Homo sapiens: one gene and its partners. The protein of the gene in region 2 interacts with the protein of the main gene of each other region in a biochemical or structural test. Each region holds a gene or a part of one and is shown on either strand. Other genes may lie near its edges.

Evidence for each region.
Region 1: of the proteins of LAT (region 2) and ZAP70, one has a biochemical effect on the other in vitro, tested with the Homo sapiens proteins (2 studies listed by BioGRID).
Region 3: the proteins of LAT (region 2) and GRAP2 form a complex in vitro, tested with the Homo sapiens proteins (one study listed by BioGRID).
Region 4: the proteins of LAT (region 2) and PLCG1 form a complex in vitro, tested with the Homo sapiens proteins (2 studies listed by BioGRID and IntAct, with this or other methods).

What each region holds. Positions count from the first base shown.
Region 1 is NC_000002.12:97,730,558-97,737,575, reverse strand, and holds part of ZAP70 (tyrosine-protein kinase ZAP-70), read right to left. Parts: intron 4,694-7,018; coding exon 4,555-4,693; intron 4,452-4,554; coding exon 4,364-4,451; intron 4,280-4,363; coding exon 4,233-4,279; exon of another isoform or gene 4,033-4,232; coding exon 3,981-4,032; exon of another isoform or gene 3,057-3,980; coding exon 2,864-3,056; intron 2,327-2,863; coding exon 2,120-2,326; intron 104-2,119; coding exon 1-103. UniProt on the Homo sapiens protein: Tyrosine kinase that plays an essential role in regulation of the adaptive immune response. Regulates motility, adhesion and cytokine expression of mature T-cells, as well as thymocyte development.
Region 2 is NC_000016.10:28,980,063-28,988,053, reverse strand, and holds the start of LAT (linker for activation of T-cells family member 1), read right to left. Parts: upstream 3,003-7,991; 5' UTR 2,679-3,002; coding exon of another isoform or gene 2,637-2,678; coding exon 2,537-2,636; intron 2,342-2,536; coding exon 2,314-2,341; intron 2,201-2,313; coding exon 2,166-2,200; intron 1,920-2,165; coding exon 1,838-1,919; intron 1,673-1,837; coding exon 1,608-1,672; intron 1,515-1,607; coding exon 1,485-1,514; coding exon of another isoform or gene 1,398-1,484; coding exon 1,340-1,397; intron 1,256-1,339; coding exon 1,161-1,255; intron 1-1,160. Other genes in the region: SPNS1 (protein spinster homolog 1), read right to left, coding at 3,375-3,445, 3,615-3,849, 4,764-4,862, 5,132-5,197, 5,509-5,698, 5,998-6,153, 6,439-6,584. UniProt on the Homo sapiens protein: Required for TCR (T-cell antigen receptor)- and pre-TCR-mediated signaling, both in mature T-cells and during their development.
Region 3 is NC_000022.11:39,967,081-39,974,098, forward strand, and holds the end of GRAP2 (GRB2-related adapter protein 2), read left to right. Parts: intron 1-961; coding exon 962-1,192; intron 1,193-2,330; coding exon 2,331-2,453; intron 2,454-3,824; coding exon 3,825-4,004; 3' UTR 4,005-6,641; downstream 6,642-7,018. UniProt on the Homo sapiens protein: Interacts with SLP-76 to regulate NF-AT activation. Binds to tyrosine-phosphorylated shc.
Region 4 is NC_000020.11:41,133,294-41,140,551, reverse strand, and holds the start of PLCG1 (1-phosphatidylinositol 4,5-bisphosphate phosphodiesterase gamma-1), read right to left. Parts: upstream 3,010-7,258; 5' UTR 2,911-3,009; coding exon 2,694-2,910; exon of another isoform or gene 2,552-2,693; intron 1-2,551. Other genes in the region: translation initiation factor IF-2-like, read left to right, coding at 3,213-3,794. UniProt on the Homo sapiens protein: Mediates the production of the second messenger molecules diacylglycerol (DAG) and inositol 1,4,5-trisphosphate (IP3). Plays an important role in the regulation of intracellular signaling cascades.

The DNA of each region.
Region 1 (7,018 bases), on a different chromosome or scaffold from region 2:
GGCCGCCAGGTCACGGTGCACAAAGTTCTTCTCCTCCAGGTACTTCATCCCCATGGACACCTGGTGCAGCAGCTCGGCCACATTGCTCACAGGGATCTCCTCCCTGGGGTGGCGGGGAAGGCGGGGTCAGCTGGGAGAAGACTAGCCAAGTTCCCAGGGGCAAAGCATGCTTCTCTGACCCAGCTGGGCATGAGCCAGGTGACCATGTGTTCAAAAACGCTTATTGAGCACCTGCTGTGTGCCAGGCGTGGGGCTGGGGACACAGCAGTGAACAAAACAGGCAAAACTCCTGCCTTCATCCAGTCTCAAGGCTTTAGGGATCACCCACACGCTACGACTCCCAAGTCTAGACCTATGCCTGCACCCTCGACGTGCTGAGGTCTCACAGGCATCTCAAAGATAATGTGGCCTGATTGTCCCCATCCCCATGTGCACACACATATGGCTCCTCCACTGTCCTCTCCAGCAGCTCCTCTTTCTCTCACACCCAATCCATCAGCAAACCCTGGCAGTTCTGGTGTCAGAATCTCTCCAGAATCCACCGCACTCCTCATCTCTGCCTCTGCCACCGGGAAGCAGCCGCAGCATCACTCACCTGGACCCCCAGGCAGGAATAGTCAGCTCCGCCCAGGCCCTCGCTCCCTCCTGTCTCCCACTGTCTTGTCCTCTCTGCCCCTGAGTCAGGTCCTCCCCCTCCTCTGCTCACAGCACCCCCTAGCTCCCACCCAACTCAGGGTAAAACTCCAAGTCCTCCTGGCAGCCCGCAAGGCCTGGCACGGTCTGCTCATCCCCTCCCTGCCCGCACCACACGAGGCACGGGACCACCTCAGGGCCTCTGCACAGGCGGTGCCCTTTGCCTGGAATGCCCTTCCCCACGTCTGGGCATGGCGGCCTCCCTCAGTTTGTTCAAACCTCCCTGCTCACTGCACCTCGCACCCCAACACTCCCAACCCCCTGGAGCTGCGGCAGGCTTGTGCCCACCACACTATCTTCCCACATGCTCTAGATTTCATCAGGATTGTTACTTACTGTCTCTCTTCTCCAACCAGAATACAGAGCATGGATCTCTGCCTTGTTTATTCGCTAATGAATCCCAAGTGCTACTAACAGTTCCTGTCACTGAGAAACTGTCCAATAAACACCTGTCAAATGACTGAATGTGGGAGCCAGGGGCACACTGGGAAGGTGTGTGCACCAGCCAGAGGGCACAGATCAGCAAAAACGTGCCTTGGGGAGTGCAGAACTTGTGTCTGTGAGGGTAAGAGTTTGGGGATGAGGAACCACAAATGAAACTGCAAAACTTTTCAGTAAAGGGCCGGATAGTAAGGATTTTAGCCTTTACAGGCCACAAGTGATCTCTGTCACATCTTCGTTTTTGTTTCTTTAAAAAAAAAAAAATTAAAAATAGAAAACCACGCAGCACGTAAACAAAGGGCAGGTTCCAGATAACTGGCAATGGGCACTTTCCCAGGGGCCATGAATTTGGCCCAGGGAGTCTGGGGAGCAGCTGATGTGTACAAAGCTCTTACTAGCAGTGCCCTTTATTTATTTTTATTTATTTATTTTTTTGAGATGGAGTTTCGCTCTGTCCCCAGGCTGGAGTGCAGTGGCACAATCTCGGCTCACTGCAAGCTCCGCCTCGTGGGTTCAAGCGATTCTCCTGCCTCAGCCTCCTGAGTAGCTGGGAGGCGCCCACCACCACGCCCAGCTAATCTTTTGTATTTTTAGTAAGGACGGGGTTTCACCATGTTGGCCAGGATGGTCTGGATCTCTTGACCTCATGATCCACCCGCCTTGGCCTCCCAAAGTGCTGGAATTACAGGCATGAGCCACCGCACCCGGCCCTAGCAGTGCCCTTTATAGGTGCCGACTCATTCGATCCTCGCAAAGGCCCTGGAGGTAGACACTGTTATTACCGCACTGGTGCAATGGTGGACTGAGGGTTAGCTCTGCTTTGCAGGCATGGGTATGGGTGTGGGTGTGCAGGCTGAGAGTGTGTCCACGATGGTGTGGAAGTGCCCCGGCTTCCCACACACGCATGCACGCGGGTGCATGTCCACCATGCCCAGGATGGGCCCCGGCCCCACCCACCCGATGGCCGGGCCCACCCGGTGCTCACCTCTTGCCGACCAGGAACTTGTGCAGCGGCCCGCCCCCAGCCATCTCCATGACCAGCATGAGGGCCTCGGCCTGGCAGACGCCAATGAGCCGCACGATGTAGGGGTTGTCCAGCTGGTGCATGATCTGCGCCTCGCGCATCATCTCTTCCGTGTCTGCCTTCTCCGTGCCCTGCTTCAGCACCTTGATGGCCACGTCGATCTGCTTCCTGCCCGACCCGGCCACGGGAGGCACGTGGGCGAGGGGCACCGGCCCTGCTCGGCCCCACACCCCCACCCACCCATCTCTCTTCTCCCTTGAGTTGTGTGGTAGACAACTGTAGTCGCCACCCAGGCTGGGACCAAGGCGCTCAATGTCCCTGCAGCCTGGAGCGTCTGCTGAGGACGGCTCACAGCCGGATCGCTCACCGGGAACAGCCCATCGCCAAAAAGAATCCAAAGTGACACCCTCCCCAGGGGCAGCCTGTCAGGGGCCAGTGGACTCAGGGATCGGGGACCCCACTGCAGCTCCCCTGGGTTGGGAACTTCAGCTCCACAGCCTCCCCCTGCCCAGGCCCCATCCCACCCCCGTCAGGTGTCCCGAGCTCTCTCAGGGAATCCTCCAGCGTGCAACGTCCTGCCCCAGAGTCTGTTTCCCAGGCAAACTGCTGTGAGACAGACATCCCGGCTCCCGTCCCACAGCCCGGTGAAGCCACTCCCCTCTGCCCCAGGCGGCGGTGCTCCCACCACGGCAGGGGCGGCCATACTTGCGCATGCGGTACACGCCCTGGCGCACTGAGCCAAAGTTGCCGCAGCCAAGTTCAATGTCAGCTATGAGGAGGTTATCGCGCTTCAGGAAGAGCTTCTTGTCCTTGAGCTCCTCTGGGTCGCTGTAGGGGCTCTCATACACGCTCGTGTCCATGGGCATCGGCCGCGGTTTGTCTGGGGACGTTATGCGTGCTGGGCACACACAGCGGTACACTCCCAGGTCAGGGGCAGGGGTGTGGGGAGCAAGGCAGCCTCAGCCCCCACAAGCACCTGCCCCAGACAAGGGTGCCGTCCCTGGAGCATGCACAAGCAGGTGGGTGCCCATGCGTGTTCCTGCACATCCACACGCACACACTGGCATACACTCCTGGCCACAGCTGTGGGTGCCCCATGAAGCCACATGAGGGTGGACTCTAGGGGCGTGTGCATTGGTATCCACGTGGCACCGTTACTGTGCCAGCTGGGGTGTGCATGTGTGTGCATTCGTACGTGTACGCCTATGGCCGGGCCCGTCCCTGTCTGCGTATGCAGCACACAGCCACATTTACGAGGCCTCCAAAAGCGAGCCTCTAGGTGCACATGTAACTATGTGTCTTCTCTGTGCATACACATGTTCAGGTCTGGGCCCACCCATGAGAAACAGGAGCACCCGCAGCAGACCATTTTAGGAATGTGAGCTCTGGGGCCCATCGTGGGTTCACATCCCGCCTCTACCACTGCCTCACATCCCCATAGACAGACCCCTCCCTCTCTCATCTGTAAAGTGAGGTTAATCACCATAGCCACTTCATAAGGCATGTCAGGAGGGTTCGGTGGCTCATACACACAGTGACCTCGGAACGTGACTGACACATAGTAGGTACTCAACAAACGTGTGTCTGGGGAGCCTCAGGCAAGGCCAAGTGTGCTCCCTGCACGTCAGTACACACTGGGACGTACATGTGCACAGGCAGGTGTGATGGGTGTGGGCACATGTGTGCACAGGTGTTAACCAAGCCAACTGCCACAGCCTGGCCCGGCCCACAGCGCCCCCCGTGAAACCCCACAGCCCTGACAGCGACCCTGATCTCGGCTCAGCATGAGCCCCAACCCGCGTCCCCACCTCTGCCCGCTCACCTGGCTCAGGGGTGTATCCATCTGAGTTGAGGGTGTCGATTCGTCTCTGAGGCTAAAGGCCACAGGGTCAGCAAGGCCTGAGCTGGGGACGTCCAGCCCCTCTCATGAGACCTATATCCACTGAGGACTCCCAGAGACAGTGGAGAGAGAGCTTCTTCCGCTCCACAGGCACCCCAGCCTCCATCCCAGCCTCCCCCACAGCCACTCCCCAGCTCCATCCCCAAGGCCACACTCCAGGTGCCCCCAACTCACATGAGTCAACGTGGATGGGTGGGCTGGGAGTGTGGGAGCAGCAGCCCCTGGGGGAGCAGAAGGGACAGTGAGGGCTGGGGGCCAGGTCTCCTGCCGCCCCCGCCCACCGCCCGCCCGCCTGCTGCCGTCACCTGAGGCGTTGCTGGCACTGCTGTTGGGGCAGGCCTCCTTCAGGCAGTAGATGAGCCCGTCCGCCTTCAGCTTCAGATACTCCACCAGCTGCAGGGAGCAGGCAGCTAGCAGAGAGGCTCCTCTCCTCCCCAGAGCCCGGCACCCCATCTGAGCACGGCATCTCCCAGAACAAGTTGCACGGGCAGCCTACCTGCCAGAGCGTGTCAAACTTGGTGCCCTCGGGAATGCAGTACTTGCCCGCCTTGTCTTGGCTGATGAGGTAGTGGTACACCGTCTTCCCATAGATGAGGGACAGGGCGTATGTGCCCTGCTCCTTCCGCGGCCTCAGCCTGGCAGGGGAAGGGAGGGGATGTAACCCCTAGAGCCACCTGGGGGCCTCCTGCTGTGCCCCGGTTCCCCCGCAACACACCCTATGGGCTCCACACCTCAGAGCCTTGCAGAGAAGCTGCAGGGACTGGGGAAGCCAGGCCAGGCCCCCATCACCTCCAGATCTGCTGATGATGGGCCAAGTGGCAGAGGGCGGTGGAGGGGCCATGGCTGTGTTCCCAGGAAAATGCACTGTTCTCCAAGAGCCAACAGATGGCCATTCACGGGGAATACCTGACCCCCCACGGTGGACACCCAGCCACGGAGGAGGGGACACCCATCCACTGGGGAACACCTGGTCCCCCATGGCTGAACAGTTGGCCATCCACGGCCAGACACTTGCCATCCACAGAGAGATAGTCATCCACAGGCACTCATTGGGGGTACACTCGGCCATACAGTCAGCCAACCATGGGGGGCACTTGGCCTTCTACAACAGACCCAGAGCCTTCAACAGGTAGACCTAGCACCATTCTCCTGGGGAGAGAAAGCCTTTTCCACACAGACCCACACAGGTAGGCGCAGCTCCATGACAAGCTTACAGGGCACCCCTGTGCAAATCAAAACAAGTCACTTTCTCATCACGAGACTGACCAGTTCCATAATAGATGGACCTTTCCTAGAATGAGACCCTCGATTGCCTTCTGCTGGAATTTTGTCAATATAAATATATAAATCTTCCATGTCTATGATGGGAATTGAGCCCCTCAAAGGTGGTGCATTTGTGGGGTAAGAAACTGTCCCCCCATCCGCTCCAGCCCTGAGTACACACATCCCCCCTCAACACAGACCAACTTAGTGTCAGACACCGGCACCCTCGCATGAAGCCCCACAGTGACACCAGTCAGCATCCCCCACACAACAGTTTTGTCTGGGGTCACTGGCACAAGCCTCTATTGCAGGGTCAAGTGTAGCTTTACAGTGAGGAGGGAGGGCAGCTGGCCCCGTGGAAGCTGTGGAGGCCGGAAGCAGCCGACTCCTGATCTCAGGGATTGCACTGCACTACAGAAGAGCCCTTGTGATGGCCTGCGAGCTGCACCCTCCAAGGTGCAAATTCTCAGACCAGGCCTGGCCCTGCCTGTGGATGTTCATTCACTGGACAAGTCTTTACTGACAGGCCAGGCACTGTTCTCAGCGCAGGGATATGGCAGTGAGCAAGGCAGCCATGGGCCCACCTTGCAATAAGGCCCTTCCTTAGGAAATGTCCCCTGAGTGAGGGAGAGAGGTGCAGCTGTGACCATCCTCTCCATTCCTGGACAGCACGTTCCCCGAAGTACAGTGCAGTGAAGGGTGGGGCAGTTCCCAGGCTAGCCCACAACAGTCTGGAGATAACATGGAGAGATGGGAAATCAGGGCGGGGGCAATGAGGGCACACAAAAGGGCAAGGAAGAGAACCCACCACAAATTAGGAAACAAACATCCCACAGAGACAGTAGGCTGGGACAGCAGATGCAGCGCCGTCACGTGAAACCCCGCAGTGACACCAGTCAACATCTCCCACAAAACATTTCTATTTTGAGTCACTGGCACAAGCTCCTGTTAAGTGCAGCTTTCCAGTGAGGAGGGAGGGCTATTGGCCCTGGGGGTCTCAGAGCTGTGGAAGTCAGAGGCAGGTGGCAGGCTGGCCTGGAGGTGATGGTCTCCAGGGACTGTGAGAAGTGAAAACACCTCCTAAGGGTCACAACCTGAAGTTTTAAACTGACAACAGAGACTCCATGCCAAGCCACTCACCAGCAAACAGCAAACCTCCCATCTCCCCTCCTCTGTCTCTTTTTTTTTTTTTTTTTTTTTGAGACCGAGTCTCGCTCCACAGCCCGGGCTGGAGTGCAGTGGCGTGATCTCGGCTCACTGCAAGCTCTGCCTCCTGGGTCCATGCCATTCTCCTGCCTCAGCCTCCCAAGTAGCTGGGACTGCAGGTGCACACCACCACGCCCAGCTAATTTTTTGTATTTTTAGTAGAGATGGGGTTTCACTGTGTTAGATAGGATGGTCTCAATCTTCTGACCTCGTGATCCACCTGCCTCGGCCTCCCAAAGTGCTGGGATTACAGGCGTGAGCCACCAAGTCTGTCTGTCTCTTTCATTCTTTCTTCTAGAACTAATAATTTCCTCCTTATTTGTTTATTTAAACTTCCATGTGGAATACTGGGGGAAAACAGCCACAATATTAGGGAGCTCTTCCCATCAATAGGTGGGGCCTCCTCCTCTGTCTTCTGAATCAGGGCTTGACCATGTGCCTTGCTAACAGGACATTAGCAAACATGACACAAGCAGAGGCTTGAAAAATGG
Region 2 (7,991 bases):
GTGGCATGATCTCGTCTCACTGCAACTTCCGCCTGCGGGGTTCAGATGATCCGCCCATTTCAGCCTCCTGAGCAGCTGGGACTACAGGCATGTGCCACCACGCTTGGCTAATTTTTTTTTTTTTTTTAAAGATGAGGTTTCGCCATGTTGCTCAGGCTGGTCTTGAACTCCTGGGCTCAAGCAATCCTCCCGCCTCGGCCTCCCAAAGTGCTAGGATTACAGGAGTGAGCCACCATGCCCAGCCAGCTATTTTATCAGGACAGTCTGCCTCCTTAACTGTTATATCCACAGCATTAGCCCAGCAGAGGCACATAGTAAATGCTGAATGAATGAATGAATGAATGAATGAAAGAAAAGAAGTACTTGGATACAGTCTGGAGCTCAGGAGAGAGCAAACTGGGAATCTGGATGGCAAACAAAGCCAGGGTATAGAAGTGATAGCCCAGGACAAGTATATACAGAGAGAGCAAAGCAACAGAAAACTAAAGAATCCCGGACATTGAGGAAAGCCCAGAGGATGTGACCAGGCAGGATGAGACCATGAGGAAGGGAGAAAACCAGCTCAAAGGAAACAGGGCAGTGCAGGAAGCAGAAGAAAACTGACACACACAGACACACAAGACAGCCTCTAATTAACATCCTTAGAGATGTTTCATCCATGAAACAAGAACAGGAGGCTATAAAAAAAGAACAGCCAGAGAACGAGAAAGAGCTTCTGGATAGGAGAAATAAAATTGCAGTGGAAGGGTTGAAGAATACAGACAAGGAAATCTCCCAGATGATAAAGGAAAGGACACAGAGATAGGAAAGAAGAGAGAGAAAGCTGAGAAAATCAGAAGAACAGGGCCGGGCATGGTGGCTCACGCCTATAATCCCAAGCACTTTGGGAGCCCGAGGTGGGAGGATCACTTGAGCCCAGGAGTTTAAGGCCAGCCTGGGCAACATAGTGAGACCATCTCTACAAAAAAAATTTTTTAAATAAGCTAGGTGTGGTGGCATGCGCCTGTGGTCTCAGCTACTTGGGAGGCTGAGGCCGAGTAGCCTACTTGGGAGGATCACTGGAGCCCAGGAGTTCAAGGCTGCAGCGAGCTACAATGGCACCACTGCACTCCAGCCTATCCCTAAAAAAATTTAAAAATAAAAACAAATGCCTGACTCACTGGAGAAGGCACTGTCTCGGATGCCAGGGGTGCTGAGTGCAGGAGCTGATGGGGCAGCAGTGCTAGTGGCCGGGGTGCTGTCAGGAAGCACCACCCTGAAAGGAAGTGAAAAGGGCCGGTGAGCAAGGGGGGACGCACAGCCTCAGCCCTCACCTCCCACCTCCCACCTGGCCACTCACAGGTAGCCTGGGTTGTGATAGTCGTCCTCATCCTCATCCGCATCCTCACAGGCTGGTTCTGGGGGTAACGACACAGGGGTCAGCCTAGTCCAGGACGGACCCCAGACTCCCCACCCAGCCTGGGCACCTCGGATCCCAGACGCACCCTCGTTCTCGTAGCTCGCCACACTGTTGGCTTCAAAGAGAGGGTGAGAGGGAGACTAAGTCAGCTCAGGCCAGGCCTATCTTCTTCCCAGCCCCCGCCGCCTGAACCCTTCCCCACACTTACCACCATCAGAATCCCGCCGGGAAGATGGCGTCCGGTGGGAGCCCCCAAGGGGCTGCGGGGATCTTCTGGGAGTCAAAGGTCAGGGGTCATGCCTGAGGTGGGGCTCAGGGGGCAACAGCAGTTGCAAAAGGGAAAGGGGCCCCCAATCCAAAAAAGTGAAGGGGTAGAGAGTGGAGTTTGGAGGGGGAGGGGCTGAGCTTTGGAGGGGCAGGGGCTGAGCAGCTACTCACGGGATGGGGAGCAGGTCTGGCTGGCTCAGGGGTGGGTAGGAGGTGACAGGTGGGTAGGCAGGTGGCCAGGGGGCAACCGTGTCTGAGGACACAGAACCAAGTTGAAAGAAGGACTCCGGACATCGTCAAGGCCTCAAAGAACAGACTAAGCCCCTGAAAGCCCCACACCCTGGACAGGCCTGGGGGAGCCATCTCCCCTCTCCCAGCTCAGGTCAAGGCCATGTGGGCAGCCCCAAGGTGGCAGGGGAAGTCTGAAGGTTCACGCTCACTCCCACACCAGGGGACCCTCTCCCTGGCACCCAAGGTAGGGGACCCTCCTTGTACTCACGAGGCCGTTTGAACTGGATGCCCCTTGGATACAAACTGGTAAAGGAGACACAGCTTGGGGATGGGGCTGGAAGATGGAGGATGGAAGCCCCAGCCCTGCCCCGCCATGGGGTGTGGAGGGAGACCCAGGGCGGCTGGGGCGGACTCACCTATCTGAGGATGTGCTGTCGTAGGAGCCTGGGAAAGAGAGGGCTGGTGAGGCAGGAACAGGGGGTGCTTAGGGCAGAAGGTGCTGGGATCCAGGGACTCTCAGAGGCGCTGGGATCAGGACGGAGGCAGGGACAGAGCCAGGACAGACACAGGGGCTGGGAGTGGATGAGGATCCCGTCGGTGTCCCTGGGCCCTGGGTACCCCCACCAGTTTCCCACTCACCTGGCAGTCTGTGGCAGTGCACACACAGTGCCATCAACATGGCCAGGATGGGCAGCAGCAGGAGCCCCAGCACGCAGGGGACCAGGATGGCCTCCTCCATCTGCAGGGGAGCTCGGAGCAGGCTGGCTGCACCCCTAGGCCCCTCAAGGGCAGAGTCAAGGCCAGATGAAGATGGGGTGAGGACCGGACCCGGCAGGGAGCAGGGGGCAGGTAGGCACCAGGTGGCAGGGGAGCCCGGGAGGAGGCAGCTGTGCCCTCCCCGGGGCTCCCGGGATGGGTCCCCTCTTTTACTGGGCTGAGTGTGCGTCCAGCTGACTGTGGAAAGTCCCTGCTCCCAGGGTGGTCAGACCAGGGCCTGGGCTGAAGTCGGGGGATCCAGTTACCCCTGCGTCCCAGCCCTACCTGCCCCTCCTCGGCGCCCGCCTCTCCGTGCCCGCCCTCCCGCCCGCCTGCGGCAGGAAGCTGTGGTGAGCGCCGGGCGAGGGCAGGAAATCATCAAGCTCTCAGCCGGCTGCACCCGCCCCCTTCCCACCCCACCCGCCAGTGGGGAGGGGGCAGGAGGAGGCCCGGGAGCCACCCCAGGCACTCACCAAGGGTCTGCTGGCCCCCCCCAAGACGGGGACAGCCACCTGCCAGCTGGCAGCCGTGGCCTCCATATCCAGGACCCGGGGAGGCAGCGAGCAGGGAGGCCCTGACAGTGGGAATTCTGGGGTACAAAGGGCAGTGCCCACCCCCACCTCAGCCAGGCCTGTGAGGCAAGGGACAGGCTCCAGGGAAGCAGGGGCGTGACTCACGGTCACACTCAGCCAGCTCACTCGGAGAAGAGCAGTCCCCCATCTCAGTCGCCCAGCCCAGAAGGGCAGAGACTCACCCAGAGCCCTGAGGAATGACCCACAGTCTTCAGGAGCCCTGGGGTGAAGACGGGGTGCAAGATCAGAGGCCACCCAGAGAAAGACGAGAGCAGGCACCTGGGGTCTGGCTACAAATTTTATTCCGTTACAAATAGCACCGAGCCCTTGGGGCTGCCCCTGTGGAGAGGGATCCCCCTCCTGGACCCCCACCTCCTCCCCTGAGCTACCCAGGTAGTGTCTGGGAGCTGGCACACGGCCCAGGGTCCCTCTGGAAGCTGGGCCAGGCCAAGGGGTTAGGCCCAGGCCCTTCGTGGGGTGGGCCCAGGGCCAGCTGTGGCAGATGTGCAGGTAGGTGAGCGGCAGCCTCTCAGATGAGCACACTGGCCACGGGCACGCGGGTGGAGCGGCCCCGCTGGGGCACCACAATCCGGTCGTCTGTGGACCCTGCTTCGTGCAGCAGGCCTGAGGGGGGAGGGTCAGAGCCAGGGTGAGCTGGATGGACAGACAGACAAAGCCAGAGAAGGGCAAACAGGCAGCGGGAAATGGATGGGGCAGCCACAGAGCCACCCCAGGGGTGGATGCAGACAGACTGGAGGCCAAACAAGGGGAGGGCTGTGGACTGAGCTGCCAGGTGCACAGGAGTGGGCAGACAGATGGACAGACAGACAGGCAGATCAAGAAGCTGGGCCGGGCACAGCTCCTAACTGACCCTGCACGTGCAGCTGTGCCCGCCGGCGGTCGGCCTCAATGAAGATGGCGGTGCCCAGGAAGGCTGCGCCGCCCAGTGCCCCAACAAACGCGCAGAGCATGAGCGAGAACTGCAGAGCCCGGAACTCGGACAAGAAGGAGGGGGGCCAGTTCCGGCGCAGGCGGTCAGAGATCTGCAGGGAGAGGAGACAGGAAAGCCAGGGGAGTCAGCCTCATGGATGAACCAGGGAGGGCACGCCCCTGAGCTCCAGGGAGAAAGACAAGTGGAGCCCAGGAAAGGGAAGGAGGTTTGAGCTAGATGCAGTGGCTCATGCCTATCATCCCAGCTACTCAGGAGGCTGAGGTGGGAGGATCGCTTGAGCCCAGGAGGTCGAGGCTGCAGTGAGCCATGATCGTGCCACTACACTGCAGCCTGGGCAACAGAGTGAGGTCTTGTCTCAGGAAGAAAAGAAAAGAGAAAAGAAAGGAGGAGTTTGGACCACCAGGGTGAGGTCCCTGGCCTTACTGGTAGAAATATTCAAAGACAAAATCTTTCTCCTCCAGTTGACAATGGAAGGTGAGAAGTGCCCAGCACGCAGGACACAGACACTTCACTAGGGCCAGGCCTTCTGATCCAGCCCAGGCTCAGGACACCAGCCACCCCATGCCAGCCAAGAAATAATGCTCACCAGGCCAATGAGGTAGGGGCTCCCAGCATCACCCAGCAGGTGGGACAGCACGATCTGGAAGGCCTCGGCGGTGGAGCGTCGGGTAGGGATCACCACGTACTGTGGAGGAGTTGGTGGAGCTCAGTGGATGCTCTGGGCTCCAGGGGGCAGGAGGCAGGGGGCCAGGAGACCACCAAGGATCCGCCTAGGCCGGGGTCAGAGGTGTGCCTGGGGTTGAGGTCGCAGGGCAGGCCGGGGGTCTGCTACAGATGTTATTTATTGCAGAAGGTAGGTTGAGGCTGGGCTTTGAGGGGTAGAGGCAACACTCCTGACCCCAACTCTGCTCTCATCAGCCTCTGCGCTGACCCTGGAGCTGCCCAGCAACTCACCAGCAGAATGTCGGCCACGATGGCCCAGTTCATGGACAGGAGGGTCTCTCCAATGAAGATGAAAATCTGGGGGAAGAGAGGGTCGGGGGTTCATGACAGTAAGGGCTAACACATGGAAAGTTGACCATGTTCCCAGCTCATCTATTAACTAATTTAATCCTCATCACACCCCAGTGAGACAGGTGCTACTAATATCCCCATTTTACACATGATGAAACTGAGCACAGAGAGGTTAAGTCACTTGTCCAATGTCACACAGCTGGGAAGAGCCAGAGCTGTGATTCAAAACCAGGCATTCCACCTCGAGTGGCCATTACGCTGACTGCTCCTCCACCCTGGACCCACGCCATCCCCCTTGACACCTGCTGGCTACTCACATAAGTGGCCACGATGCTACCACGGGCGCAGGCAAGGGACAGGAAGAGGAAGGGTGCAGAGCCCAGGAGGCCAGTGGCACAGACCAGGGGATCAGCCCGGGGGTTGGAGTGGCGGAGCCGGCGGCTGATCTCCACACCCAGGCCCACACCCAGGACTCCGGTCAGGCAGGTGATGAGTCCAAAGATGAGACTAGGGGTGAGGGAAGGGAATGGGGGGTTTGTCCCTGTGCCTGCCAAGGCCCCTACGCTGTCCATCCTAGCCACCCTCACAACCAAGGTCCCTACAGACACAGCACCCCATGGTTGGCACAGCCCTGAGTGGCAGACATCATCCCATCACTTATTTCCCAGACCAGGAAACGGAGATTCCAGGAGAGCAGGCAGCTTGTGAAGTCAGGAGTCAAACTCCCTGCCTGGGTCTGAGCCACAGATGCTCTTCACTCCAGCCCTGCCACCCGCAGGCCCCCCAGCATAGCCCCATCTGGGCACCTGTCAGAGGAAGAGCAGGAGTCTCCGGGAAGGCAGGGTGGGGTCTCCCCAAGGACCACGCGGGAACGCAGCAGGAATGCCGGAGCCCACAGAGCCAGGGAGCCCGTGACAAAGGCCACAGCAGTGAAGCCCAGGGAAGACAGGACGAAACTAGGACTGCAGATAGTTGGGAGGGAGAGAGTAAGACCCCACGGAGGTGTCGAGGCAGGAGGGGACCTCTCTTCTCCCTTCCTGGCTTATTTTAGTAAGGTCACAACACCGTGCAGAGGTGGTTCTGGCTCCCAGGATCTGGGCCTGTAATTCAAGCAGCTGCCACAAGGGGACAGTATCGACCGAATTACTGGCCTTGGGGTGTGGCCAGGAACAGGAACATCCCCACTTAAACCTCAAACCAGACGCCAGGGGGCCTCAGATGGTGGTCTAGGGTGGGAATAAACTCACTTTCTTGCCAGAGCCCTCAGATCTGCCCACCACGAGGTGGGGTTCAGGGGTGGCAAATCTGAGTGGCGCTCCACGGCTCCCCTTGGCGGCTCCCGCACTACCAGGAACAGCAGCAGAACGGCCACCACTCCTAGACCCGGTGTCACCTGGGAGACAGAGGGCTTCAGGATAGGCACAGGGAGAGACACACTCAAGCCCTGGGCTGGAGGAGAGTGTGGGGTACAGATAACTCCAGCCTGAGACCTAAAATACCCAGTTAAGTGCCTGCTCCAAGAAGCCGAACCTGCAATCTGGGGGAAGGGGGCTGCCACTAGGGGCCACCCTATTTTTGCAAGCCTAGCTTTGTCTCCTCTTTGGTAATTTTCTTTTGGGAAACCAGTACCCCTACTTCTCTCAATCCACTTGGTTTAAATAGGATCCCAGGCTTGGCCAACAAGAGGACTGTTAACCACCCCAGCCTCGGTGACGGATTCCGCAGAGGGCACGTGATGCATGTTCATCTAGTCAGACGCTATCCTGGAAACACGGCCCCAGGGTCCAAGGTGCCAATGTTGCTAAATGGAAAGGTAATCATCTGGAGTTCTCACGTCCTTAAGAATGATGTTAACACAAAGGAAAGTAAAGCTCAGAAGAGAAGGGCAGTGTGGGAGCCCTGGATCCAGCTTTACCTGACTGAAGCTCACCTGGGACTTTCAGGAAGAAAGCCAAGACAGCCCCTTTAGGGGGCTTACGGTTTGTTTGTTTGTTTGTTTGTTTGTTTTCGAGACAGAGTCTCACTCTGTCACCCAGGCTGGAGTGCAGTGGTGCGATCTCGGCTCACTGCAACCTCCGCCTACTGGGTTCACGCCATTCTCCTGCCTCGGCCTCCTGAGTAGCTGGGACTACAGGCACCTGCCACCACGCCCAGCTAATTTTTTTTTGTATTTTTAGTAGAGACGGGATTTCACTGTGTTAGCCAGGGTGGTCTCAATCTCCTGACCTTGTGATCCACCCACCTTGGCCTCCCAAAGTGCTGGAATTACAGGTGTGAGCCACCGCACCCGGCCTCTAGGGGGCTTACAGTTTTACAATGGGCTTCTGTCACCTGCACGCAAGAATTCTGTCTAGCACATGGCTTCCAGGTGAGGGCAGCCAGTCTCCTGCAGGCTCAGCAGAATGAGAGCTGCCCCAAAAAAGGGGTATTTGGAGCCAGGCGCATGGCTCACACCCGTAAGCCCAGCACTTTAGGAGGCCAAGGCAAGAGGATTGCTTGAGGCCAGGAGTTCAAAACCAACCTGGGCAACATACAAAGACCCCATCTCTACAAAAAAAAAAAATTTTGTGTGTGCAATGGCACGATCTCTGCTCACTGCAACCTCTGCCTCCCGGGTTCAAGCGATTCTCCTGCCTCAGCCTCCCGAGTAGCTGAGATTACAGGCATGCGTCACCATGCCTGGCTAATTATGTATTTTTAGTAGAGACAGGGTTTCACCATGTTGGTCAAGCTGGCCTAGAACTCCTGACCTCAGGTGATCCGCCCACCTCAGCCTCCCAAAGTGCTGGGATTATAGGCG
Region 3 (7,018 bases), on a different chromosome or scaffold from region 2:
CATTCACTAGAATAGCTGAAATCCTAGGGACAGGTTATTTGAAAAGATATTGAGACTGTGAAAGCAATGTGTGCTTTGGGGAAGTCAAGAAAATCCTCCTTTTTCGAGTCCCTAGTTGCTTTTAAGCCTGAGAAGTTACTGCCAAAGGAGAAAAGAAGTTACCACCAAATGCACACAGAAGTTCAGAAAGGAAAACAAAGGCTAGCCAAGACCTTGTGAATCACTCTAACCAGGAAACGGACAGAGGTATTAACTCACTAGGATGGGCATTCAGAGAAGCAATATAAAATTGCATTAAATGGGATTAAATGAGTTGATATTTGTAAAGCGCTTAGAACAGTGCCTGGTATATGCTGCCCTCAGGGTCCTACATAATTGTTTGTTAAATGAAACTAACAATACGGTATTTCTGATTTGTAAGGTTGTTGTAACATTAGGGAAAAAGGCCTTACTTCTTCCCCCACGTCCAGCCCGGCGGCAGGCCTGGTTCCCATGGTGTTGCAAGAATGTTGCTGTTTGGGTCTCTATCACCAGGCTGTAAATGACAGTTCAAAATCATGCAAAGTCAACAGTGGAGCTTATCTGGAGGGTAGATTGTCCAGTGGTGTGGCAACATGTGATAAGAAGGGGTGGCATTGTATCAGTAAAATGGAATATTTCAGCTTGATTACACAGAGAAAAAACGAGCGCCCTGGAAATGGACTAAATGGCTACCAGGCAAAAAGTGTTAGTCTGTGAACCAGAGACCTGCACTCCTAAAACTGGGAGGATCTGAGAATGCAGAGGCCACTTTGGAAAATGTGAAGGTCTAAAGCATCAATTATCTTTTAGCTGCCCCCACCCCACCAGCTATTTCTTGGAGCCAGATGAGCAGGGTCTGGGAACAACTGCCCGAGGGTAGGGTAGGGCCAGACGATCAGAGAGGAGGATGCATCTGCAGCATCTCTGTTCTTTCTCCCAGGGTCACCGGGGCAACAGCCTGGACCGGAGGTCCCAGGGAGGCCCACACCTCAGTGGGGCTGTGGGAGAAGAAATCCGACCTTCGATGAACCGGAAGCTGTCGGATCACCCCCCGACCCTTCCCCTGCAGCAGCACCAGCACCAGCCACAGCCTCCGCAATATGCCCCAGCGCCCCAGCAGCTGCAGCAGCCCCCACAGCAGCGATATCTGCAGCACCACCATTTCCACCAGGTATCTGGAAAGAAGGCAGTGGGCACAGTACGGTGGAAAGGAGAACCTGCCTCCCCTCCAGGCCTGGCCCAGCCTCTTGAGTTCTCAGAGAGTTCATGATGAAGACCCTGGACCCCCCCAAATGGCAGAAATAGGGAAACTGTTCTTGGCAAAGACATCTCTATGAATTAAATGGCTCCCACCTGAACACACACACACACACACACACTGTCTCACACACACACACACACTTAAACTCACACACACACACACTTCCCCTGAGGACCCAGTAAACAATTGCTTCATTTTCCTATCAGCACAATTCCAAATCTATTCATGCCCCTTAGCCCATCTGGCTGTCAGATCCACAAGAGAAAAAGGCTTAATACCCACAACAGAGCCTTGTTTATTACTTATTTATCTCCCTCCACCCTTGTTCCCGATGGGATTTCAGGCGGCTTACTGAGATGGACAATACGGCCAGATAACATCATTCCTGAATTCCTTAGCAGGGCACACAAAGTCCTTTGTGAGCTGCCAGAATCTATTTCCCCAGCCTCGTCCCTGCTGCCTCCCTGCCAACTCCCCGTGCAAACACACATTCCAGCAACCCCCCACGCTGCCTTAGTTACCCGAATGGTCCATTGCGTTTCCTCTCATGCCTTTGTGGCGTTTTATATGCTGATCTCTCTGCCTGATGAGCCCCTCCCTGGGCAGTCCTACCCCTCTAAGCTGGAGTTCAAGCATGACCTCCTCTGTGAAGCCTTCCTTGATTTCCCGGGCAGATACAGACATTTCTTCTCTCTGCTCACTTACCACTTAAATGTGCATGGTTCCCCCTCTAAATGGAAGCTCCATGAAGCCAGAGACCTTCTCTTTCCAGCTATATTTCCCTTGTGTCTGCTACTGGAAACATGGTAGGTGCCTGATAAATATTTCTTGACTGAATAAATAAAACCTGCCTTTGCCTTCTTTGCCTTCAGAATCTAAGGTGCCTTTAGACCTTAGGTCCTCCTCAACGTGGAGGGTTTATTGTCATTATCAGTAAGTATTCCTGGAATATACCGGCTCTGTGGATGGCATCTGAGCAAGGCACTGGGGGAACCGGTGGGAGATGTCCTGGCAGTGGGGTGACCAGTCTTCTGTTGTATGTTTCTAGGAACGCCGAGGAGGCAGCCTTGACATAAATGATGGGCATTGTGGCACCGGCTTGGGCAGTGAAATGAATGCGGCCCTCATGCATCGGAGACACACAGACCCAGTGCAGCTCCAGGCGGCAGGGGTATGGGAACTGTCCTTCTCTGGGATCCCTGGGGAAAGGCCTTGGGACAGAGGTCAATGGAGGAGATGAGGCAGGAGAGACTCAAACCACACAGATCTGGCTGGGCACGGTGGCTCACACCTGTAATCCCAACACTTTGGGAGGCCAAGGCAGGTGGATCACCTGAGGTCAGGAGTTCGAGACCAGCCTGGCCAACATGGTGAAACCTCACGTCTACTAAAAATACAAAAATTAGCCAGGCATGGTGGCAGATGCCAGTAATCCCAGCTACTTGGGAGGCTGAGGCAGGAGAATTGCTTGAACCCAGGAGGCAGAGGTTGCAGTGAGCCGAGATTGCGCCATTTTACTCCATCCTGGGCAACAAGAGCGAAACTCCGTCTCAAAAAACAAAACAAAACAAAACAAAAATGCACACACAGATCAACGAGAGGTGATGGAATGTTTGGGGAGGCCTGGGGCTGAGCCAGCACCGTCCAGTCTGTTGATCTCAGTCTGGTGCCAGGCCTTCCCTGTTCTCATAGTTCTCAGTTCTAGTTCTTTATCATCTTTATCATAGTCCTTTACCATTGCCTTTATCATTGCATCTTTTTTTTGTTTTTTGAGACAGGGTCTCACTCTGTCTCCCAGGCTCAAGTGCAGTGGCACAATCATGGCTCACTGCAGATTCAAACTCCTAGGCTCAAGCGATCCTCCTGCCTCTGCTTCCCAAGTAGCTAGGTATATTATTTGTAGCGATAAGCTCTTGCTATATTGCCCAGGCTGGTCTGGAACTCCTGGGCTCAAGCAATCCTCCTACCTCAGCCTCCCACAGTGCTGGGATTACAGGCATGAGCCACCGTGCCTGGCCTGTGATCCATCTTGACTTGTGACTTGATTGCCCTAACACCAAGGGCTGTTGTTTGGGGCATGTTGCCCTTCTGTTTGTCACTCAAGATAAAAATACCACCTATTGATGTGGAGAGAGTGGTTCTCAGGGAGTCTATTGGGGCTTTGGACAATAACATCTGTTGGTAAAAGTCCTGGGTCTCCAGAGTGACGCTGGTGCGTTCTGGGAACTTCTTGCTCAGGCCTGTGCATAGGTATCTGATTTAAATTGCAGCAGGGTAGCCGGGCATGGTGGCTCACACCTGTAGTTCCAGCTACTTGGGAGGCCAAGGCAGGAGGACTTCTTGAGGCCAAGGGTTCAAAACCAGCCTGAGCAACATAGCAAGACCCCATCTCTACAAAAAAAGTTTTTTTAAGCTGCAGAGGGGTCAGCCTTCAGGGAATGTTGCTCTCAAAGACTTGGATGTGGTGGGAGGAGCCAGCAGACCCTCCCCTGCCTGCCCAGCCCACAGCTCAGCAGAGCCTCTTCTGTGCTTCCCCCAACAGCGAGTGCGGTGGGCCCGGGCGCTGTATGACTTTGAGGCCCTGGAGGATGACGAGCTGGGGTTCCACAGCGGGGAGGTGGTGGAGGTCCTGGATAGCTCCAACCCATCCTGGTGGACCGGCCGCCTGCACAACAAGCTGGGCCTCTTCCCTGCCAACTACGTGGCACCCATGACCCGATAAACTCTTCAGGGGACAGAAGCTTTTTGTCTGGAGCTGCCCACAAGAAAGAGGGCAAGGAAAAAAGGCTGGACTCCATGACTATATATACATACATCTATCTACATCTGCCTGTGTACACACACAACTTTTTATACTAGTAATTTATTGGCAATTGGGCTGGTAATTAGTTGATGCAAAAGGGAACTCAGGTGGAGAATAATATTGACACTTGCTTTTCTGCCCCCCTCAGGGGTGTGTGGAAGGCAGTGGGGGAGTTGGGAGGGGGGCAGGGAAATGAAATGGAGTTTTGTCCTGGCCTTCAGCTGTCACTGCTTCCTCCTTGTCTTGGGAATTTTCACGGAGAACAGCTAAGCAGAGACCACACCTCGGCACTGGACACAGAACAACAGGGTGGGGTTGAACTTGGTGGGGCACGTTCTAGCTGACCTGCAAGCCCCGCTCACCTGGAGGGCTTGCAGAGCAGCTCTCCTCCTGTTCTCCAAGGGGTGGGCACTGTTGCATTAGGAATTAAGGTGCAGCCCAGTGCTGCGGGCAGCCAAGCGAGTCTGAGCGGGGATGTGAAGGCAGGACGGGGTTGGAGAGACCCTGCCTGTGCAAGGCTGGCCTCCTAGTCAACACCTAGCTGAGACATTCATCTCTGTTCAAATTAATATTCCTTGGGTCTTTCAAATGAATGTTTCAATGTGAGGAGCGAAGTACTGGGAAATCGAGGGATTTTCCACAATCCCCAAGCAGCTTACTCAGTGGAACCTCTGTTTCCCCAGCTATGAAGGAAATAGCATCCTACATTCCGTAAAGTGCTTGAAGAAGCTCTAGCTGAGAATGCTGAATTTTACAGTCATTGTTTTATGGTTACAAGGGTATGTCTTCAGGGCTCTGTTCATTTTCCCTCTTGATTTTCTCTTTTGAAGATGCCTTGCCCAGTGGCATGGAAAGAAGCCCACTTGATGATAGGAGCCTGACTATGAATTGATTGACTAAACATGACCCCAGGTGGAAGCTGGCTTTGACACCAGCTTCCTGTTCAGTCTGACCACTGCTGTCCTCCTGCTGCCCAAGAGTTGCACCTGGAGCAAGGAACCCCACCATGGCTGTCGCTCTCCATCCCATCACGCTAGAATCATGTGTCCAAGGGCTCACTCTGGAGGTGCACAGCACAGGTCAGCCTGGCCAGGGGCGAAGGAGACAGTAGAGAGGAAGCTCAGGGCCTTAGGGGAGGCCGGGTGCAAACCCGTTCTGCACCAAGTGCACTCGGAGTTTGTGGGTATGGGTGTGTACCCCTGCAGGTGTGCACATGTGTGCTTGCACGCACATATTTGTGCACTCCTGTGTGTATACATGTGTGCTTGTGTATGCATATGTGTGCATTCCTGCATGTGTGGACATGTGCGTGCATGCATCTGTGTGTCTGTGTGTGTGCTGAGACAGGAAAGGGGGTGAAAGTGTTGGTGAGGGAGCCTGGAAGTTTTCTCTTCCCCAACCTCTCTTGCTCTAAGGAGGGATGGGGTTGGGGGCAGCCGTTATTGAAGGTGATCGGAGAAGAAAGATTTTCTGACTCAGAAGTGACTGCCAGTGTAGCACAAGCAGTGTCCCTTGTGACTGTGATTCTACAGTTCTCTGATCCTCATGTTTCCTTTAGAGGAAAGAGGAAAAAAGGAACTCTGTGGTGGGTATTGGGAGGGAAAAGAAAATAGCCTGGTGGAGGCAGGAGGGAGTCGAGTGTGAGTAAGGAGCACCTGCAGCTTTTGGAAGTGAAAGCAGAGAGAGGGAAAGGTAGCTAAGACATCCAGGAGGATCAAGGGGCAGCGTGAGAGGCACAGGGGGAGGAAAGGGAGAGGGTGAGTGGGGCCAGGGAAGAGAACGGTGTGGAGTTGGTGGGCAGATGGTGCAGGAGGAGGGCTGGGCAGTGGGGAGAGGAAGAATCAGAGCAGAGAAACCGCTGCTGCGGAAGGCAGGGAGCAAAGAAGCATAAGGAAAAGAACAGGAGAAAGAACAAAGGCAGAGAAGACCTCCTCAGCTATTTTGGTGCTAGGTAATGTGAAATGCTGCAGTAAATAAAAGCCATAAGTAATGTTTGATTTTACAGTATTTACAAACCATATGCTTTAAACAGCCCACAAACTCCATCCAGTTGTCTGATGATGTGGGAGGACCAGCTCTAGTTAGACGGAGGTATGTGATTCGATTCTGGTGGAGACTTTGTGCCTTGAAAGGCTTCTCAGGAAAGCAGTAATAAAACAAAGTGTCCTTGTTTGGCCAGGCCGTGTCTGGTGTCTGCGTTGCATACCCCTCAGGTAGAGAGTGAGAACGAGACCAGGGGGTGACAGGGGTCATCGGCCTGCAGGAGCTGACCCCGTAGGCAGGCGGTATGAGCAGAGCTTTCAGAACCCCTGGAGCTCGGTGTTCTGTTGTAGCAAAAGCTACTGAAGAGTATTTTGTACTGAGATGCCAAAGCATCTTTCCCTTGCTCATCAGCCTCCATTCAGAAGGAAGCGGGAAAGTCACCCAAACCACCTACAAGGAATGAGGGCTCTTAGCGGCCAGGTAAAGAGGACAAGAACCAAACTGTCCACATTATGGAGGGGAGGGGGAAAGAGAGCTCAACCCCCCTCAGCCTCTGGTGCTGCCAGGGGGAGCCCCTCCGCATGTGTCCCCACGGGCCCTAGTTTCTACCTGACAGCATTTCAGCACCAGAGGAGGGTTGAGCCAGCTCCTCTCACCAGCCACAGAACCAGCAGCCAACAAACACATTGTCCCCGAGTTTGGCTGCAACACTCTATGTGACTTGGGAACTTGAAGCTTCCAGAGAAAAGCCAGGTCCTGTTGGACCAGTTGTTGGGTTTTCCTAACCACTTGCTGTGCCTCACCGCATTTCAAATATCTGGCACCTGCCACTGCCCACCCACTTTTAGATGGCCCTAGGGTGATCTAACCATGGTGCTTCTCAAAATTTAAAGTGCCTACGAATTGCCTGGGGACCGTGTTGAAATGCAGCTTCCAACTTGGTCCTGAAT
Region 4 (7,258 bases), on a different chromosome or scaffold from region 2:
TTAAACCACACTGTCTCTCCCTCAGGTCTACCAACACCCTGAAGGTAGCACAGTGTCTCTCTCTTAGGCCAGGCTTCAGGCACTGCTGGTACCCTGGTAGGGTCAGCAGGAAAGGCCAGATACCTGAGGTGCTTGGGCAAGAGTCCAGGTGGCAGAAAACCCGGCTGGCAGTCCAACCTCCTCAGAGGCCGCAGGGATCAGAACCCACCAACAAGGAGAGCCCACGAATGGGTAGAAGCAGGGCACGGCTTCAGTGGAAGCCTCCATTAGTTAAGTCTGAACACACAAGCATCGACCAGACTTTTCATCCAGGCTCTTTTCAATCTGAGCCCCCAAAATCCAAAAGCCAGGGTCCTCCTACATCCTCTGCCTACTCTCCAGGCCTGTTAAATCCCAGCTAACTGATGAGATCACTGAATTTGTACACCTCTGGCTGACCCACCTGCTCACCCCTGGGTAGGGGGTTATCAGGTCCTCTGTATGCCTGCCTCCATCCCCCAAATACATGAGGCATGATAAATCATCCCCTCTCTGCACCCCTCTTTTCTGTTCAGGCCCCAACTTACAAACAAGAAAGGTCACACCCAGGAGTCAAATGTGCACAACTGCAAACACTTTCTCTACAGAAACACTGTTCTACATGGTGGGTGGGTGAGTGGGCACATGGGTTGGGGCAAAACAAAACTGTTTCCTGCCTTTTTCTGAGTAGCAATCTAAGTGAAATGTGAATTTGGTCACCGTCCTCCTCCCTTCCTGCACCTTCATCCTCACCTATAGCCACACCTCACCCCCTCACCATTCCCAGTTCAGGGTCTTGAAGGGCAGCCACGGTCTATTGTTAATGTTATTGCTAATAACAGCTCATATTTATTAAACATTTATGTGTCAGACAATGCTAGATGTTTTATATGAATTGTCTCATTTGATCCTGGAGCAACCATATATACTGGATATATTATTACCCCCATTTTACACATGAGGAAATCAAGGCTCAGAGAAGGTAAGTAACTGGCCGGGAAACACACAATGAATATATGGGCTTCAAATCCAGACTTGCCATCAACCACTGTGCTACATTTATTGCCTGCTAATATGCGTGGTTTAAAATGCAGTCTGTTACCCAGGAGATCTCTGAGAACTTCCAGCCAGTGCCACCAACTCAACACAGCATAGGGAGTAAGGAAGGGGACCATGCCTGGAGCCTGATGCCTGAGTGATGTTCCCAGGGTTATCTCAGCTCTTTGCAGTGTCGATTCTTCCTTTACTTTGGAATCCACAGGCTCTCAAGTCACTAAAATGTTCTCCCAATGGCTGACAGGGTCAGTGGGGGCACTGAGGAAGGGGGCTGCCATTTCTAAGTTGAGCAGCTGCATTAGATCTGTGTCAGATCTGGAGTTTGTAGCTGAGGATGGTTGGCTGCCTCACCACAAGACCTTCCTTCCTCCCAATCTCCTCAACTATCTACACACATGCACACCATACCCAAGAAGGTTTGTGGGACCCCCCCTTGGGGTGTCACTTCCTGATCTCCCTCCTTCACACAGACCTGGTTCTGAGCCTGGGTCTCTCTAACCCTAGTCTCCGGGGGTCCCTGCAAGAAGCAACCCAGTCTAGAGTTGCAGACACACCATCTCTTCACACTGAGAGGCGGGGGAATGGAGGGCAGAGCAGAGTGCCCATCCGACCACAGCACAGGCACGCGCTAAGTGGAACAACTCTCAAAGATCTGGGGTTTTTCAAAATCCCCCAACTCCCTCCTCCCACTAGAGACCAGCGCAAAAGCAGCCAAGCTCAGGCCTGGGAAGGCGAAAAGGCAGGAAACTAAGAGAAGCCGCTCCCGCTCCCTGAAGCCACCGGACAGAGGACAAAGGGCTAGACTCACAAACTAGCTGCACTCCTGAGAAGAATACCTGACTCCAAGGCGCTGGGGCAGGCCTTTATGGGGCCCATCTCCTGGGAACGTGCTTCCCAGGGCAAGGGGAGTCCCTGCCCTGGCATTGAGTGTCTGCCCACCCACATAGGCCTCCAAAACCCAGCTTTGGGACAAAAGTAGCAGAAAAAAAAAAAAAAAAATTCCAGCCACTGGCTTCTCTCAGGCTTCTCCAAACCAAACAAGACCACCTTCCTCCCTCTCCCCCAGAGGGAGATGAGTAGGCCCAGCTCTGCTCCAAGACCAGCCCTACCCAACATCTGCCTAAGTTCTACTTAGGGAACCCAAAGATTCCTTTGCAAATAAGAGCCCAGCCTGGGGGCCCGGAGAGTTTCACAGACTGCTCTTTCTGGATAAAGAGTGGGCGGGGACCGTCTGGTCAGGCCCCAGGTTCCCGTGCAGGGTGGGGGCCACTGCCTTAGCTCCCCTCGCCGACGCCGCCACCACTCCCAGGGTCTGGGGGGCCCGATGCCTGCACCGCAGGTCTCCAGCCCGCGAGGATTTTTAGGCCTCAGGGCAAAGCGCCTGGAACACTCCCCCCAGCTGGGGGAGGGGGGGTGTCCTGTCAGGTGACCGAGGACCCGGATGCCCCCCGCCCCCAGTGACCACCCGAGACGAAGCGGGGGCGGGGCCCGGAGGGAGTCTGGGAGGGCCCGAAAGTTTGCCCAAGTCGCTGGGGCGGCCGGCCGGGGTGCAAGCAGTCGGGCCGGGCTCCCACGACCCCCGCGCGGGGCGGGCCCAGGCAGGAAGTGGGCGCACTTACTGGCCCCCTCGATCTTGTCGGCGCCCCGGCTCCACGTGATCTGGCGCGTCTCCAGCTTGACCTGGAAGGTCTTCCGCTCGGGTCGCTGCGACTTCTTGGAGTAGAACAAAGTCATGACGGTGCCCACCTCGAGGCTGCGGCAGAGGTGCAGCACCTCGGCGTCCGAGGGCGCGCCGGGCCCGCAGCCGTTGGCGCAAGGGGACGCGGCGCCCGCCATGGCTCCGACGCTGGGGGCGGCGGCGGCACAGGCCAGGACCGCCCGGGAGCAAGCGCAACGGCGGCGGCTGAGGTTGGGGCTGAGGCTGAGGCGGCAGACGAGCGGGACCCGGCGGCGGCTCCTGCAGGCGGACACGGGGCGGGGCCTCAGCGCGGCGGGGCGGGGCTGCCCTGAGGCCCCACCCCGCTTCGGCGCCGGGAACAAAGGCGCCCGCGCACCCGTGGGGAGGACCCCCGCCCGTCGGCCCGCCGCGCCTGCGCCCCGCGACCCCCAGACAGGCCGCAGGCGGGGACGGAGGCGCGATGGCGGCGGGAGCGCGCGCCGTTCCCGGTCGACCCACCCAGCCCTCAGTCCCGCAGAGCTTTCTCACGCGGCCCCGGACACAGCCCGGCGGCCACGAGCGGCCCTGTCACGCACGGCAGCCCCGCCCACAGGCCGCAGGCCCGGCGGCCGGCGCGTCAGTCAGGCGTACTCGCACGGGCGGCCGCTACCCCGCGGTCCCGCACAGACGCAGCCCCCGCGTCCCGAACACCGCCCATGCAGCGACCGGGACGGGACGTGAGGGGATGGCGCGTCCTCCGGGAATGCCCGGCCAAACTCAGTTACCTGGGCGGGCTTCCCGGACAAGGGAGCCAGGACGGGCCGCCTCACACCGGCGGCGGCGGGTCCTCCGCGCGCCCTCTCCCGGGAGGGGCGGGGGCGGGGCTGCCTGCGGATTGGTCGCGGGCACTGATGGACAGCCGACATGTCCCGCCCCCCCGGCAGCGCGGGGCTGGTCCGCAGGCAGTTCTGGCGACGGCCAGACCCACGTCTGTCTGTTCCGCCCCTGCTGCCAGGGTGGCTTTCAGTGGTCCTCTCTTTCGGAGAGTTCCCCCCAAGCGTGAGCACCCCTTACAGGGGCGTTAGGTCCGCGGCCGCGCTGTCCAGTGGTCTGACCTGCAGCTCCCAGGGCCTTTGTGTCTGTCCCTCGCATGGGCCTCTGCACGCTCCGTCCCCACGCGACAGGACTCGAGTCCGATTCGGGGCTCCGACTCAGACCCTACCCCGCAGCGCCCTCCTGCAAATGCTCTCCTGAACTTTGGTTTTCCCCGCCTTGCTTTCTTCCTCCTCCTGTAGCCGCTGCCTCTCGATCTCAGAAGCTTCTCTTCCTCTGCACTCAGTGCTAGGCCAGATCCCAAGGCGACCTGACCTTTCCCCTGGCTTTGCCCAACAACACAGGCACCGGTGACTCCAAACCTGCATCTCCCCTACGTTCCAGGCCCCAGCATCCCACTGCATGTTCCACATCCCCCCCCCTTAGACAGCTCGCCTTCCCTCCCCAAACGATTCCTTCCACAGTCTTCACTTTCTCAGAACGCGGCGCTAAACTTCTCTAAGTTGGAAGGTCAAAAACCTTGCAGCTAACTTTGATTCCTCCCTTTGCCTCACCTCCAATCCATCAAGACCTTGTCACTCAGCCCACAAGCTGAAGGCCCCATCTCCTGTCACCCAGACTACTCACCTTGTTTGGTTTTGCCTGGATCTATCAGTTTGGTTTTGCCTGGATTTATCATGCTTTAAATCTTTAAAATGAAATTAAATCATGATCCCCTACATCCAGGCTAAAACCCTCCGTGAATTCCCATTGCACCTAAAATCCACACTCCCTGCTTGGCCTAGCAGGTTCTATATGACCTGCCCATCTCACCAGTTTCATCTCTCACAAGTGATCCTTCACTCTCCATTCTCCAGCCACAAGGCCTTTTTCTGGTTATGGAATATAATTCATACTCTTTGTCTTTCTGAAGCCATTCTTGAAACTCACCCCTGCAATCTATCTACCCTTGTCAGCACCGCCAAAATTGAGGACACCCACGGTCGCGGTGGAGCCTGTCTGACATGTTGAGCCAGGCAGTGGGTCGGCTGCCAGGCACAGCAGGACAACTTACTGCATTTCAGAGGTGAGAAGCCCAACAGAGCTTCCAGCTGATGCCAGAGAAAGAGCCAGGCTTCCTGGGAATTGTGAGATAGTAGGACTAGACTAGAGTTTGTAAGAGCGTGTGCTCAGGCAACCCACTCAGCTGGATAGTGACCTGGGGCTGCTGCTTCTGACTTTGTCTTGCTGTAGTGGAAACTTGTGTGTTAACGTTGATTTCCTCAAGTGCGTCCCCTAAGAAGCTCAGAATTCAGCATGACATTGAGACCCTTTGTCCTAGCCAGCCTCTGTGGAGTAAGGAGCGGTGGGGTAGCTGAGATGGACTGCCACCTAGTGGCAGGTCTTTACGTGGGCGGGACGGAGCTAGCGTAGACCCTGTGCTGAAGGTGTGCACCTGTGGTCACACCTGATCCTCATAATTATCTTCTAATCAGGAATGATGGTCCACAATTTACTGATGAGGAAACAGAGATTCAGAGAAGTTCTACAATTTGCCCCAAAGCCACATAACATGACTAGGTGGGAACTAGAACCCAAGTCGGCCTGACTCCATGAGTTTTCTGCCTCACAGGAGATCCACTGGCTTAGGTAAGTCCTGGTGGTCAGTAGTCAGTGGGCATGGAGGCTATCTGGTTAATCAGCATGGGTGAGGGGAGGCATGCTCACCGCTGGCCTTGGGCACAGGGAATCCAGCAGAACGTGAGTGCTCACAGAGTGTGGCTTGAACTGGCTTAGGCTTGAAGTTCTGTGGACCCTGCTCTTCTCTGTGTTGGGCATTGACAACATGAGGAGCACAAGAGAGACACAGCGCCAGCTCTCTGGGAGTTCAGACATTAAATAAACACTCTGTTACATAAAGACAATTATGATGAGGGCTAGAAGGAAAAACATTGGGTCGAGATCTCTTCAGACCTCAGCAGAGGTCTAAAGGAAGTGAGTCGATGGCGAGGTGAATTATTAAAGGTGGGTTGGAGAAAAGTACATTCCAAGTAGAGGTAACAGCATGTACAAAGGCCCTGAGGCCAGGAAGAGGTTGTTGAATTTAGGGTTACAAAGCTAGAGTTTCCTGACTGAGGAGGGGACAGGGAGTGATGAGACCAGGAAGGCAGACGGGGGCTGAATGGGGCCCCTCTCTGGCTGTCTGATCCTGTTTTGTACAGGAGGCACCCTCTTAAGTGCTGCAGCCCTCATTGAGCTTACTGTGCTGACTCCGGCAGCCTGTGGGCTCTGATGCACTTTTTACATCCGTTTCTCCATTTTTTTGGGAGCTTCCTAACATGCAGGGTAAGGCTTCCTTGCTTTTACTTTTGCCTCTGGGTCTGGACCTCTAGGGGCTCAAGAAATCCCTGCCAACAAGAGCTTGAGTTTTCAGCCCGTTGCCAGGCCTGTAATCAGGGAACAGGACCCATTTCCTCCTGGGACTTCTGGGCCAGCATCCCAGGCCTCAGGTGCCTCCTTCCACCAAAGGAGGTGCAGGAAAAACAGGGCATGCAGAGGGTGTGGTCTGTGTGGGCTTCCCCCAGCTCAGCATATATATGGGTGCGTGGGTGTGAATGGCAATACGTGCAGCTGCGCTGTCTGGGAGGAGCAGCCCAGCACCCACACAAGCACACGCCTGTGACGTCACCCATGCTAGCCCTGCTCAGGCCTATTTCTGTGAACATGCATGCTTCAGCATGCCCTGGCCTACACTGTACCTGTGCCCATGCCCAGAGTCTGGGGAGAGTCCCAGCCCAACTGCCCCTCGGGACCTGTGGGTTTGGCCTCACAGCTGTTTATTAAATGACCACTTAGAACAGTGGTTGACATATAGTAAACACTATGGAACTGCTTTATCCACATTGTCTCATTTCTTCCTCATTACAGCCCTATAAGTGCTCTTATTATCCCCATTTTCCAGATGAAAAAACTGAGGCACAGAGCTAAAAGGCAGGATTCAAACCCAGGTAGTCTGGCCCCAGAGTCAGTGCTGTTTTGCTTCCCATGTATGTATGAACACTTTATTGTATATCCTCTCTCCTTTGTAAAATACCCCTACCTGATATGTTTTCTCTCTTTTTTTTTTTTTTTTTTTGAGACAGAGTTTCTCTCTCGTCGCCCAGGCTGGCGTGCAATGGCACAATCTTGGCTCACTGCAATCTCCGCCTCCCGAGTTCAAGCAGTCCTGCCTCAGCCTCCTGAGTCTCTTTTGATTTGGTGCTGTCACAGGTTGGGTTCTTTGGATGTGGACTCTGTGACAGGTTAGTGTGCAGTATGTTTATTGGGGAGTGGCCCTGGGATCAACACTCTGGGAGGTACTGGAAAGAAACAGGAGTGGGCACAGGGAAAACTAAACTGAGATGCAGGCCTGATGACAGTCTCAGCCAACTCCCAGGATCTCTGTTGTCTGGCACTAGCCTGGAAAGGAGTTGTAATGTCCTGGGAAGAGCCTAG